Regions from separate parts of the Homo sapiens genome. Here region 1 is linked to region 2. The links come from fine-mapping of genetic effects on gene expression. A gene starts in region 2. The other region holds a variant in brackets. All regions are shown on one strand. Distances are from middle to middle.

Region 1 (5,344 bases), 44 kb after region 2:
GTATCAGAATTGATTTAACCAGTCCTTTAGAGAAAAAAGTTTCTGTTGTTTCTCATCTCTTGCTATTTCTTTGTCCCCATCCCCAATCCAGACCTCAGGAGGGACAGCAGTGATGGGAATGGAGCCCAAGCCTGGACCAGGCCAGGCCCTGCCCCACCCAGGCCAGGCCCCTCCCCACTAGGCCAGACCCCCACCTCACCCAGGGCCCAGCTCATTCGCATGCCTGAATGTGATTGGACAGCCCCTCCTGGCTGGGTGGCTGGAGTTGTAGGGGCTTTGGCTTCTCATCTTTGATGCCCACCCTTTGTTTCCACTCCAGCCTCCCAAACAGGCTGTTGCAGAATACAGAGCCCTGGTACAAAATGGCCATTCTTCATTATCATTGCACCCCCAAATCACTTGAAATGCTAACTTGAGCTGCTGCTGTCACGATGACCATCCTCCTCTATAGAGAGCATGAGGCAGGCAGACACAAATGCACAGAAGCAGCTGTCCTGAAACACACCCAGCCCCAGGACAGGGGTAGGAGCAACTCCTACTCCCAATAAGCAACAGACACAAGGGAACGACACACAGGGATTGGCCACTCTGATTAGGGGTCCCGTGACCTTGAGACTTCCATAGGGCTGGAGAGGAGACGGAACTTGACTGAAAACTGAGGGCTGGGGGAGTACCAGGGGCTGGGACATAGGGATATCCCCTCAGGATTCGGGAGAAATTGCAGGATAGAAGAGAAGGCAGGAACAGGAGGAGGAGGAGGAAGTAGGTGAGAGAGAGGAAGACGAGAAGGAAAGGACCTGGATGAGAGGGAATGTGAGCAGAAGCATCCTTTCCAGCTCAGCTATGGACTTGCAGGACTGGCAACCCTACTCTGGGGTCTCCAGGGAATAGCCCCCTTTTAGAGTCCTTGGAGGTGGCCTAAAAAGATTCGGGAAAGCCAGACAGCAACAAAGGGAACCATCTAGGGAAGCCCTCGGCCACGGCTCCAGGCTGGGCCATGCCTGGCCTCTGTGGATGAGAACTCAGTACAGCTGGCATCAACAAGGTTCAGTGTCCCCTGTGTCAGGCATCACAGGGTCAGGAGGCTCCTGGCTCAGAGGCGGATGCGAGGGAGGGTAGTGGAAGAAAGAGAGTCCTGGCACAGGAAAGAGGGAACCAGGCTGCCGGCCCAGTGCCCAGCTGCTCCCCATCCCTCACACCCTGGCCCTGGAGCCCTTGGCCACATGCCCCATCCCAGGACCGCCTAGTTGTGAGAGAAGCCCCCGTGGGAGAAGGCAGGGAGGTCGGGGGCACAGGCAGCAGCCTGGGGCAGGCAAGCTAGGGGGTTGACCTCGCAGGCCCCAGCATCCTGGTCCCCTCGGAAGTAGATGGAGTCGGCAGAGTAGAAGGAGGGGTCTTCGTCAAAGAAGTTATAGGGTCGGAGGAAGAAGCCCACGCCGTTCCCCACAGTCACTGTGTTAGGAATGTCCTCTGCATGTGGGATATGCAGAAAACCAGCTGTCACCCAGGCCACCAAATCCTAGCAGGGGAGAAGAAAGAGGATCACGAGGTCTGGCTTTGCTGAGGACATGCCCTGGTAGGGATTCAGCTCACCAGCCCAAGGATCATGAGTCTTTAAACATTTTTTCCTGCTGGGTAGGAGTCAAAGCATAAGTAGTCCATTTCATATTAGGAACACCTGCTTCCCTGTCCCTGGCTTGCAGCCTCCATCTCTGACATTTCCCATCATATCGCCCATTGCCTATCTACCCCCAGAGGGTGACACCCACAGGCTACTTCAGCTCCTCTTCCCCTAACTCTCCAAGAGTTCCCCACAACTGAGGAAAGAAGGGTGGAGGAAAAAGAACCAGCGCTTGGGAAGCAGAACCAGGCCAACATTGTGAAATTCATCAAGTCAGGAATGGGAGAAGCTTCAGATACAGGAGATGTCATTTTCCCTGGTAACTTCCATCCCTCCTGAGTCCTGGAGCCTGGAAAGGACTCAGTCCATGAAACTGGAACTAAGAGGGCTCTAAGATCTCAAGGACAGGCCCAGGGCCTCACTCAGTGTCTGCATATGGACACCCAGCTCAGGAAGGTTCCCTCAAAGGATAATGATCAGATATACTGAAGTGCAGAAGGCAGGAATCAGCACCACCCCTGAGAAGTGCAGGTGGTTTTCAGGGACCCTCCCAAGAGAAAGCAAGGCTCATCCTGTACCCTCTACCCCGGCCAGCTGACCTTTCCAGCAATGGTCTCATTGTTGATGAAGTCACTGAAATCCACAGTGGGGGCCCAAGGGTCATTCTGATTGAAAACGCTGCTGCTACTGGGCTCCTCCTCCTTCCGCTGGGTCACAGCCAGCTGGTACCTAGGGAGGCACTGGTCAGGCCTCCATGGCCATTGACCCCATCCTGCTGCCTGATTATGATGAAAGGGAACTGAGTGCTCAGAGCTCAGCTTCCCCAATTGCAGTCACACAACTGACTCGGCGCTACAGAATCCCCGACGTCACCCTAAGGGGGGTCAAGTCCTCCTGTTTATCCCCAGCCATTTAACAGTACAACCCCTCTCCCATCCAAAACAGAAGAGAGTTCTCACTCCTGGGCTTTAGCCTCCAAGGGGAAAATGTGCCCATCATGGTTTCTTTGGATAACTAGAAAAACCTTTGGCCAGGCATTGTGGCTCATGCCTGTAATCACAGCACTTTGGGAGACCAAGGAGGGTGGATCATGAGGTCAGGAGTTCGAGACCAGCCTGGCCAACATGGTGAAACCCTATCTCTACTAAAAATACAAAAATTAGCCATGTGTGGTGGCGTGCACCTGTAATCCCAGCTACTGGGGAGGCTGAGGCAGGAGAATCGCTTGAAACTGGGAGGCGGAGGATGCAGTGAGATTGCTCCACTGCACTCCGGCCTGGGCAACAGAGCAAAACTCCATCTCAAAAAAAAAAAAAAAAAAGGAAAAGAAAAGCCTTCCTGAGAGAGCTCTCCCCTCACCTACAGTGTGAGCTGAGTGTCCGCCAACACTCCTTTCCCACTCTCACTGCCCCCCTCCTCTCTGACTGCC[C/T]GCCACTCACCTCTCCCAGCTGAAGCCTCTCGCCATGGAGCTGTTTTGGGGCAGCGGCTCTCCAGCAAAGCTGAGCATCTGGATGCGGTAGCCCCGGGGGTGACCCCACTTGTTGCTGTGGTTGCTGGCCAGGTACAGGTAGCGAGGGGTGGCGCTTCCCACGAGGAAGGCGGCCTGCTCCTCCATCTCCAGCAGCTTCCGGGTCACCTGCAGCCTCTGCAGCTGGTGCTCAGGGCTCCAGGGCACAGCCATGGGGACAAAGACCATATCCTCGGCCCAGACCCAGTTCTCCAGTCCTGCTCAGGGTGGGATAGGGGAGGGCCTGTCAGGCAACTGCCCTGGCCCCTCTGGACTCTGCCCCCATCTGGCTTCAGAGTGGGGGCCAAAGAGCAGCCCAGAACTGAGTGTGCCCCTCCTTCTCTTCCCTCTCCCCAGGATACCTCCAATCCTTTAGCCAAAGCTGTTGACCTGTAAATTAAAATACTTCATCAGGGAGTTCATTCCATTTCACTCATTCATTCTTTCAACATTCATTAGCAGAGAGGACTGTACTCGTCCCTGGGGATAGAGATGAATGATCATCCTTACCCTCTTGCTTTCCACGCAGACAGACAAACCACTGACTGGCCTGTCCTGTGAGAGGAGCATGGCCTAGGCAACTTCCGGATCACAGGAATACAGTTGCAGGCAGGAAAAGGGGGCCCTTCCGGGCAACTTTTCAGCCTGGCCTTAAAGGACATTACCAGAAAAGATGATATGGAAGGACATTCTAAGCAGAGACAAAGCATAAGCAAACAGGAGGATGCCTGACTGTAACATGTGAAGTGCGTGTCCAGGGACATGGAGAATTTGGGTGTAGCTGTGCAGAGCACAGCAAGGCAGGGTGGAGCTGCACCGTGAAGGAAAGAGTTTTGAGGGGGTTCTGCAGACAGGATCCCACAGGTGATGACGAAAGTGAGAGCTGAGTAAAGGGCAGGCTGGTGTGGATGGGAGGCCCTCTGGGTGCAGAGTGGCTCTTGGCTCTGAGAGCAACAAGAGCAAAAACAGCAGAGAGAGGGCTGGCACCTGCACGGCATGACAGTCTGACCTGCCGAGATACTGCAGGTGCAAAACAGAAACAAAACAAAATAAAACAAAACCAAAAAAAAACACCTGGTGACTGACTCAATGTGGGGAAAGACAGTGAAAAGACAAAGATGAAGACTCCAAGCCATCATGTAGCCTTGGCTCTCTCTGTGACCAGACTCCAGGATCTATCCAGAATGCTCCACGGGATCCATGTGACCCCTCACACTTAGGTGAATTGTGCCCAGAGAAAGAAGGAAAATCAGGGAGGAGGGTCCATCTCCAAAGGAAATGTACAACCTGGAATGACTGACCTGCACATGCCAGGGACGTGGTAGAATGCAAAGAGATCCTCCAAAACACCACCACCACAGGCCAGACACAGAACTGAGCTGACAAACAGAAGGCTGCTCCCAGCAGCAGAGCCCATATAAGTACAAGGGAGAGAAGAGGGCAATGGGGACACTGTTAGCCCAAATCCTGCCTCCTCCCTGAGCTCGGCCATTTCCCAAGATCTTTGGATGAGGTCACGTAGAGGAAGGCTGCAGCTTTGCACCCAGCCAGTGAGCTAAGATCCAAATAAAACTCAGCAGCCAACTCTCTCCCATCCAGCAAAAGGGGAAGTACAAAAATCCACGTCTTCCTTTCTGGGATAATCTACATAAAACCCAAAGCTAATGGAAACAACTTTTCAGCCCTTCTTCCAGAAGCCTTCTCCCCACCAAAATGTCTTACCTGCTACATCCAGATCCACCTTGAAGTGGGCGCTGTGGGTGTGGACCGTGCCCAGGGTGTGCTCTGACACTTGGTTCCCGTACTTCCCAGTAGCACCAAAGAGGAATGCCGAGCTGATGTAGCCCGTGGCATAGAATCGTATTTCTATGGCCCCACTGGGGTGGAAGACCGTATCCCACACATAGTCATAGTTGAGCAAGGTGGACATAGATCTGACGACCAGCACCGTTTCCGCAAGACCCCCAAAGTAGTGCGAGTAGAGATCTGAGTGGTGTCGCCGCAGGGGGAGGCCCTGGTTCTGTTCAAACACACAAAAGGCATCACGTATTGTCTTGGGGGCCTGGGACTCCAAAAGGAAGTGCCAGTCCACGTAGGTGGCCAAGTAGGGGCAGTCCACCCCACGGGTCAGGGGCGTGGTGTACTTGCCCATGCCAAAGCCTCCATCCACATAGCGGGTCGTCATTGCTGCTGGGGAATTTCCACCATAGATGGCC
Region 2 (5,373 bases):
TTTTTTTTTTTTGAGACAGGGTCTTACTCTGTTGCCCAGGCTGGAGTGCAGTGGCATGATCTTGACTCACTGCAACCTCCTCCGCCTCTCACCTCAGCCTCCTGAGTAGCTGGGACTACAGCACCAACACGCCCAGCTAATTTTCGTAATGTTTTTGTAGAGATGGAGTTTCGCCATGTTGCCCAGGCTGGTCTTGAACTCCTGAGTTCACCCAGGAGTGATTCGCCCACCTCGGCCTCCCAAAGTGCTGGGATTACAGGTGTGAGCCACCATGCCTGGCCCCATACATCTTTCTTTATGTTACCTCTTCTGCTTCATACTAATAAAACTCTTTGCTCAAAGCCTATATAACTCAGACTTTTCACGAAATTCAACTGTCCTACCCTTTAACCCATATGAAATAGGCTTTCCTGTATTTTCAACTCACTGGTAGGATTTTTTCTGTCTTCCCCCTTTATGTAGATGATCCAAAGTCAGAGAGAGGGGTTGGAAGCATGAGTAGCCCGTGGCTTCCTGAATAGCCTGGGGAAAGCAACTTCTGATGGACAGACATTGCGAGAGCGAATGCCAGCCTCTTTTCTTGCTGATCTCCTCTCTATATGGTTCTTACCACTTAAAGACGAGGTTGAGCCAGTCTCCAATCACAGCTACCCAAAGGAGTTTAATGCCCACAGCTTCCTGAAGATGGAACCAGATGGGGAAGAGGACGTAGAAGGCATTCCTGAGGTCTGCGATCACGGACACCAAGATGAACCAGTCCTGGGAGTCTTGGTAATTCACCTGGAGGTAATGTGTTGACTGGATCCCAAAGTCATGGAGAACATTCATTCCTTCCTCCATCCTCATTTCCTTGGCACCTCAGGAAGATGTCAGCAGAGCCCTTGCAGTTATTCCAGGCTTGGTGGTGATTGCTCTGCTATGAGTCTGTGCCTTGCCCCTGTTTTATATGCCCTGTATCCAGTATTCAGGTCAACCCAGCCCTGATCTTTGGACTCAAAAACCACGTTTGTCTAAAATGTATTGATCAAAGGTGCATCACCAGTAGGTTGATGCAAACATGTTCAGGGTGATTTACGTAAAATAGAAAAACAGGCACACAAAAACAGCCTGATCGGCCATGTACTCAGCAGGGCCAATGATTAACTTTGGCATGCTTCTTGGCAGTGCAAGGGTCTGCCCTCCTGGTCCCCGAAACCAGGCCAGAGACACAGGACAGAGTCTACATCCACGATGATTCTTGCAAAGATGTCAGATTTTCTATGCCTGCAACTGCACTTATTTGGGGACAAAGAAAAATCTTGGTGCTCTAGCTATTCAAGTTTTAAGTTCTTAATTTTAAAATTAGTAAAGTTCTGGCTGGTTGTGGTGGCTCACACCTGTAATCCCAGCAATTTGGGAGGCTGAGGTGGGAGGATCCCTTGAAGCCAGGAGTTGGAGACCAGCCTGGGCAACAAAGCAAGACCCTCGTTTCTACACAAAAATTTAAAAAATTGTTTTGGTGTGTGTGATGGTGTACCCTTGTAGTCCCAGCTATTCAGGAGGCTGAGGCAGGAGGATTGCTTGAGCCCAGGAGTTGGAGTCTGCAGTGAGCTATTGTCCCACCGCTGCACTACAGCCTGGGCAATCGAGCAAGACCCCAGTCTCTAAAACAAAACAAAACAAAACAAAACAAAACAAAAGAAAAACAACAAATAAAATATAGTAACTTCTATTGTATTGGGGACTATCATCTTGCTGGTCTTTCCTTAACTGTATTAGAGTCTAGGGTCTGCCTCTGGTTTGGGAGATCAACCCCCTTCCTGGTATTGGCCTCATGTCTCTTAGGGCCAGAAAGTAATCGTTTTTGAATGCAGTGATTAATTCATTTAATGACCTTAAAGTTACAGCCCTTGGTGTTGTTTTCTTTTTTAAATTTTCTCTCTCTTTTTTTTGAAACAGGGTCTCACTCTGTCTCCCAGGCTGGAGTGCAGTGGCATAATCACGGCTCACTGCAGCCTCAACCTCCTGGGCTAATGTGATCCTCCCACCTCAGCCTCCTGAGTAGCTGGGACCACAGGCACACGCCACCATGCCTGGCTAATTTTTCTATCTTTTGTAGAGATGGGGTTTTTCCATGTTGCCCAGGCTGGTCTTGAATTCCTGAGCTCAAGAGATCTGCCAGTCTTGGCTTCCCAAAGCTCTGGGATTACAGGTGTGAACCACCATGCCTGGCCAAGTGTTTTAACTCATACGTTTAAGCAAAATAATGAATGTATAGTCTTACTGTGCAACAATATGATGAATGTATGGTTCCAAATAAGAATACCAGCAAAATGGTAACTGGAGACTTAAAGAGTTTGAAACTTTCAGTTATTTTTGAAAAAGGGCTTCTATATCTTGAGCTTTCTTATACATATGTGTGTAGATATACAAAAGAAAGCTCAAGATACACTGTGTGTGTGTATATGTGTGTGTGTGTGTGTGTGTATACTATATATCAGCCTACAAATAGTAGAGAGACCAAAACCCTAACACTTGGGTCACGGAGGACTGTGAAAGGAACCAGGGAATGAATCAGGTAACGAACTCATGCATTTTAAAAAATAGGGCTATTTAATCATGCTTCATATCACTATTATTTATTATTTATTTATTTATTTTTGTAGAAACGGGGTCTCACTATGCGGCCCAGGCTGGTCTCAAATTCCTGGCTTCAAGTGATCCTCCCGCCTCAACCTAGCAAAGCATTGGGATTACAGGCATGAGCCACTGCCTCCAAATTCATGCATTTTTTGAGGATAAGAGCCAGGGGGAATAAAATGTTTAAAAACTTGCCTGAATTTCCCATCATTAAGTCCATATTGACATGTAAGGGGTAGCTGGGGACAGAAAAAAGAAACTCAGAGCTAATGAATCTGTGGCAAAAGTTGACAGCATTCCATGCTGGAAATGATTAAAACATCCTCCAGGAGGTATGACCTGGAGTCTCCTCCCCACCCCACCAAGGGCTCGCACCCAGCCCATGCTGACTCCAGTTGTCCTTGACTGCATGGTTTCTGCTGGTCCAAGCAAACTTCTCCTGCCACGCCTAACCTTGGAGAGCAGGTAATGTGTTGGTGACTGTGGGTGGGTGTAAAGTAAGCCCATGCGTGGCAGGCAGTGCTGGGGCGTGGGGTATATGTGATCTGCACTGTCAGGGCTGCTGGGCCATAGGTAGGGAGCCTCCCTCTACCCAGATAAGCCTCTGTTGTGGAGTAACTATTGCAGTGACCTCTGGGATGAGAGTTTCTATGGTCAGAGGTGAGTCAAGGTGAGTCTAAAAACATATACAAAGGCCACTGTCTGGGTCATGCCAGGGCAGCTAGCAGCCAGGGTCTCTGAGTTGGGAGGGGTTCTATTATGTGGTCAGCATATGGGGAGGGCCCTGTTTTCTGAGACGCCTCAGGAAGAATACCCCTATGGATAAGGAGTTGATAAGTGATGGAGTTGACATCCCACTCTGGGCATCCAGGGACAGTGGGAGTCTTCCTGGCGGTGGGCCACCAGGCAGGGGGACCCTCTGGATCAGAGCAACCTCATAGTCATGAGACGATGAGCTGGTCCTCATCTTTCCACCTGCCAGCCCCTTTCTGCTTCCTCCAGCACGTTTTTATCCGTGGGAAAACAGGTGAGGCCCCAGCTTGTTAGAAAGCTGACTGCATCGAGACACCGTGGATTCTCAAAGGTCTTGTGGATATATGAGGCGAGTGGCTAGAAGTTTTGCTGAGAATCCACTCATTTATCTGTTTATTTGAGACGGGGTCTCACTCTGTTACCCAGGCTGGAGTGCGGTGGCACCATCACAGCTCACTGCAGCCTCAGTCTCCTGGGCTTAAGGGATCGTTTTGCATCAGTCTCTGGGTAGCTGGGCCTACAGGCGCACACCACCAAACCCAGCTAACTTTTTATTTTTTGTGGAGATGGGGGTCTCTCTACATTGCCCAGACTGGTCTCAAACTCCCGGCATCAGGTGGTCCTCCTGCCTTGGCCTCCCAAAATGCTGGGATTACAGGTATGAGCAACAGTGCCCTGCAGAATCCACTAATTTAAAGAACTATCTCCAGAGAGGGGTTCCCGCCATCTCCTTCTAACTCTTTGTTATTTTCCCTTTTCAAGAAGTGCTCCGGTTTAATTCAACCAACATTTCCTGAGCAAAGCACCATGCCTGGCTCTCTGAGGAATTAAAAGTTAAAAGCCAGGCTGGGCATGGTGGCTCACGCCTGTAATCCCAGCACTTTGGGAGGCTGAGGAGGGTGGATCACCTGAGGTCAGGAGTTTAAGACCAGCCTGGCCAATATAGCAAAACCCCATCTCTACTAAAAATATAAAAATTAGCCGGGTATGATGAGGGGCACCTGTAGTCTCAGCTACTCGGGAGGCTGAAGCAGGAGAATCACTTAAACCCGGGAGGTGGAGGTTGCAGTGAGTGGAGATCCTGACACTGCACTCCAGCCTCAGTGACAGAGCGAGACTGTCTCAAAAAAAAAAAAAAAAAAAAAAGTTAAATCCCAGGTGTCCTCCAGGACCTTGGTGGTCTAGTGGGACAGGGTGACCTGACATTTACAAAACTATGTAAACTGGAGGATCCTTATGTGAGTGACTACCTACAAGTTCGCTGAAAAGTCACTGACATAAGGCAGATTAATTAATATGAGAAAAAGATTACAAATGTATTTAACATGTATACATGGGAGGCTTAAGAATGAAGATCCAACTTCCCAGTGAGGTATGGAAGCTCATCCACCATCTTGAGGTTGCAGAAAGAATGGGTGGCTTGGATCCTGTTAAAAACAGGTTATGGGAAGGAGGAGAAGAGGAATTCTGTCGAAGGGCAGAGGGAGAATGATTGGATCGAGGAACAGAAATTAACTTGTAAATAGTTCTCCCTGGATTTTAAATGGTCCTCAGAGACAGTCATTGTCTTGAAAAAGGGTCTGTTGAGACTTTTTTATGGTTACATTTTTGGTCTTCTTTTCTGTGATGGATAATGGGATAAAGGAAGGAGAAGAACAATTGTTCTTTTGTGTCAGTCCTTTTTTTTTTTTTTTTTTGAGACGGAGTATCACTCTTGTTGCCCAGGCTGGAGTGCAATGCGATGATCTTGGCTCACTGCAACCTCTGCCTCCTGAGATCCACCGATTCCTGTGCCTCAGCCCCCCAAGTAGCTGGGATTACAGGCATGTGCCACCAGGCCCGATTAATTTTTGTATTTTTAGTAGAGATGGGGTTTTGCCATGTTGGGCCAGGCTGGTCTCGAACTCCTGACCTCAGGTGATCCACCCGCCTCGGCCTCCCAAAGTGCTGAGATTACAAGCATGAGCCACCATGCCCGGCCAGTCCTATCTTTATAGGTGA

Alleles and levels. Positions count from the first base shown, and alleles are read on the strand shown. Sizes are in standard deviations (SD) of each study's normalised expression.
As copies of C replace T in region 1, the expression in gastroesophageal junction of the gene that starts at base 2,983 in region 2 goes down (small effect, 0.38 SD a copy in GTEx).

What was found. PIP is the estimated chance that this variant, and not a neighbour inherited with it, causes the effect. A credible set is the group of variants that fine-mapping cannot tell apart.
Region 1: its variant is the best candidate, but not a certain one, in a credible set for the expression of LINC00671 in gastroesophageal junction (GTEx, PIP 0.69).

The regions. Positions count from the first base shown.
Region 1 is chr17:42,852,450-42,857,793 of GRCh38, reverse strand. AOC3 (amine oxidase copper containing 3) reads right to left here. Exons shown (of 4, transcript NM_003734.4): 1 at 4,851-5,344; 2 at 3,061-3,346; 3 at 2,221-2,350; 4 at 1-1,519. The coding sequence ends at 1,244. Among named protein-coding and RNA genes, the nearest start is that of AOC3, 3.9 kb to the right of the region's middle. The variant C/T (reference allele first, on the strand shown) is at 3,051.
Region 2 is chr17:42,896,344-42,901,716 of GRCh38, reverse strand. LINC00671 (long intergenic non-protein coding RNA 671) reads left to right here and starts at 2,983. Exons shown (of 6, transcript NR_027254.1): 1 at 2,983-3,084. G6PC1 (glucose-6-phosphatase catalytic subunit 1) reads right to left here and starts at 918. Exons shown (of 5, transcript NM_000151.4): 1 at 611-918. The coding sequence starts at 840.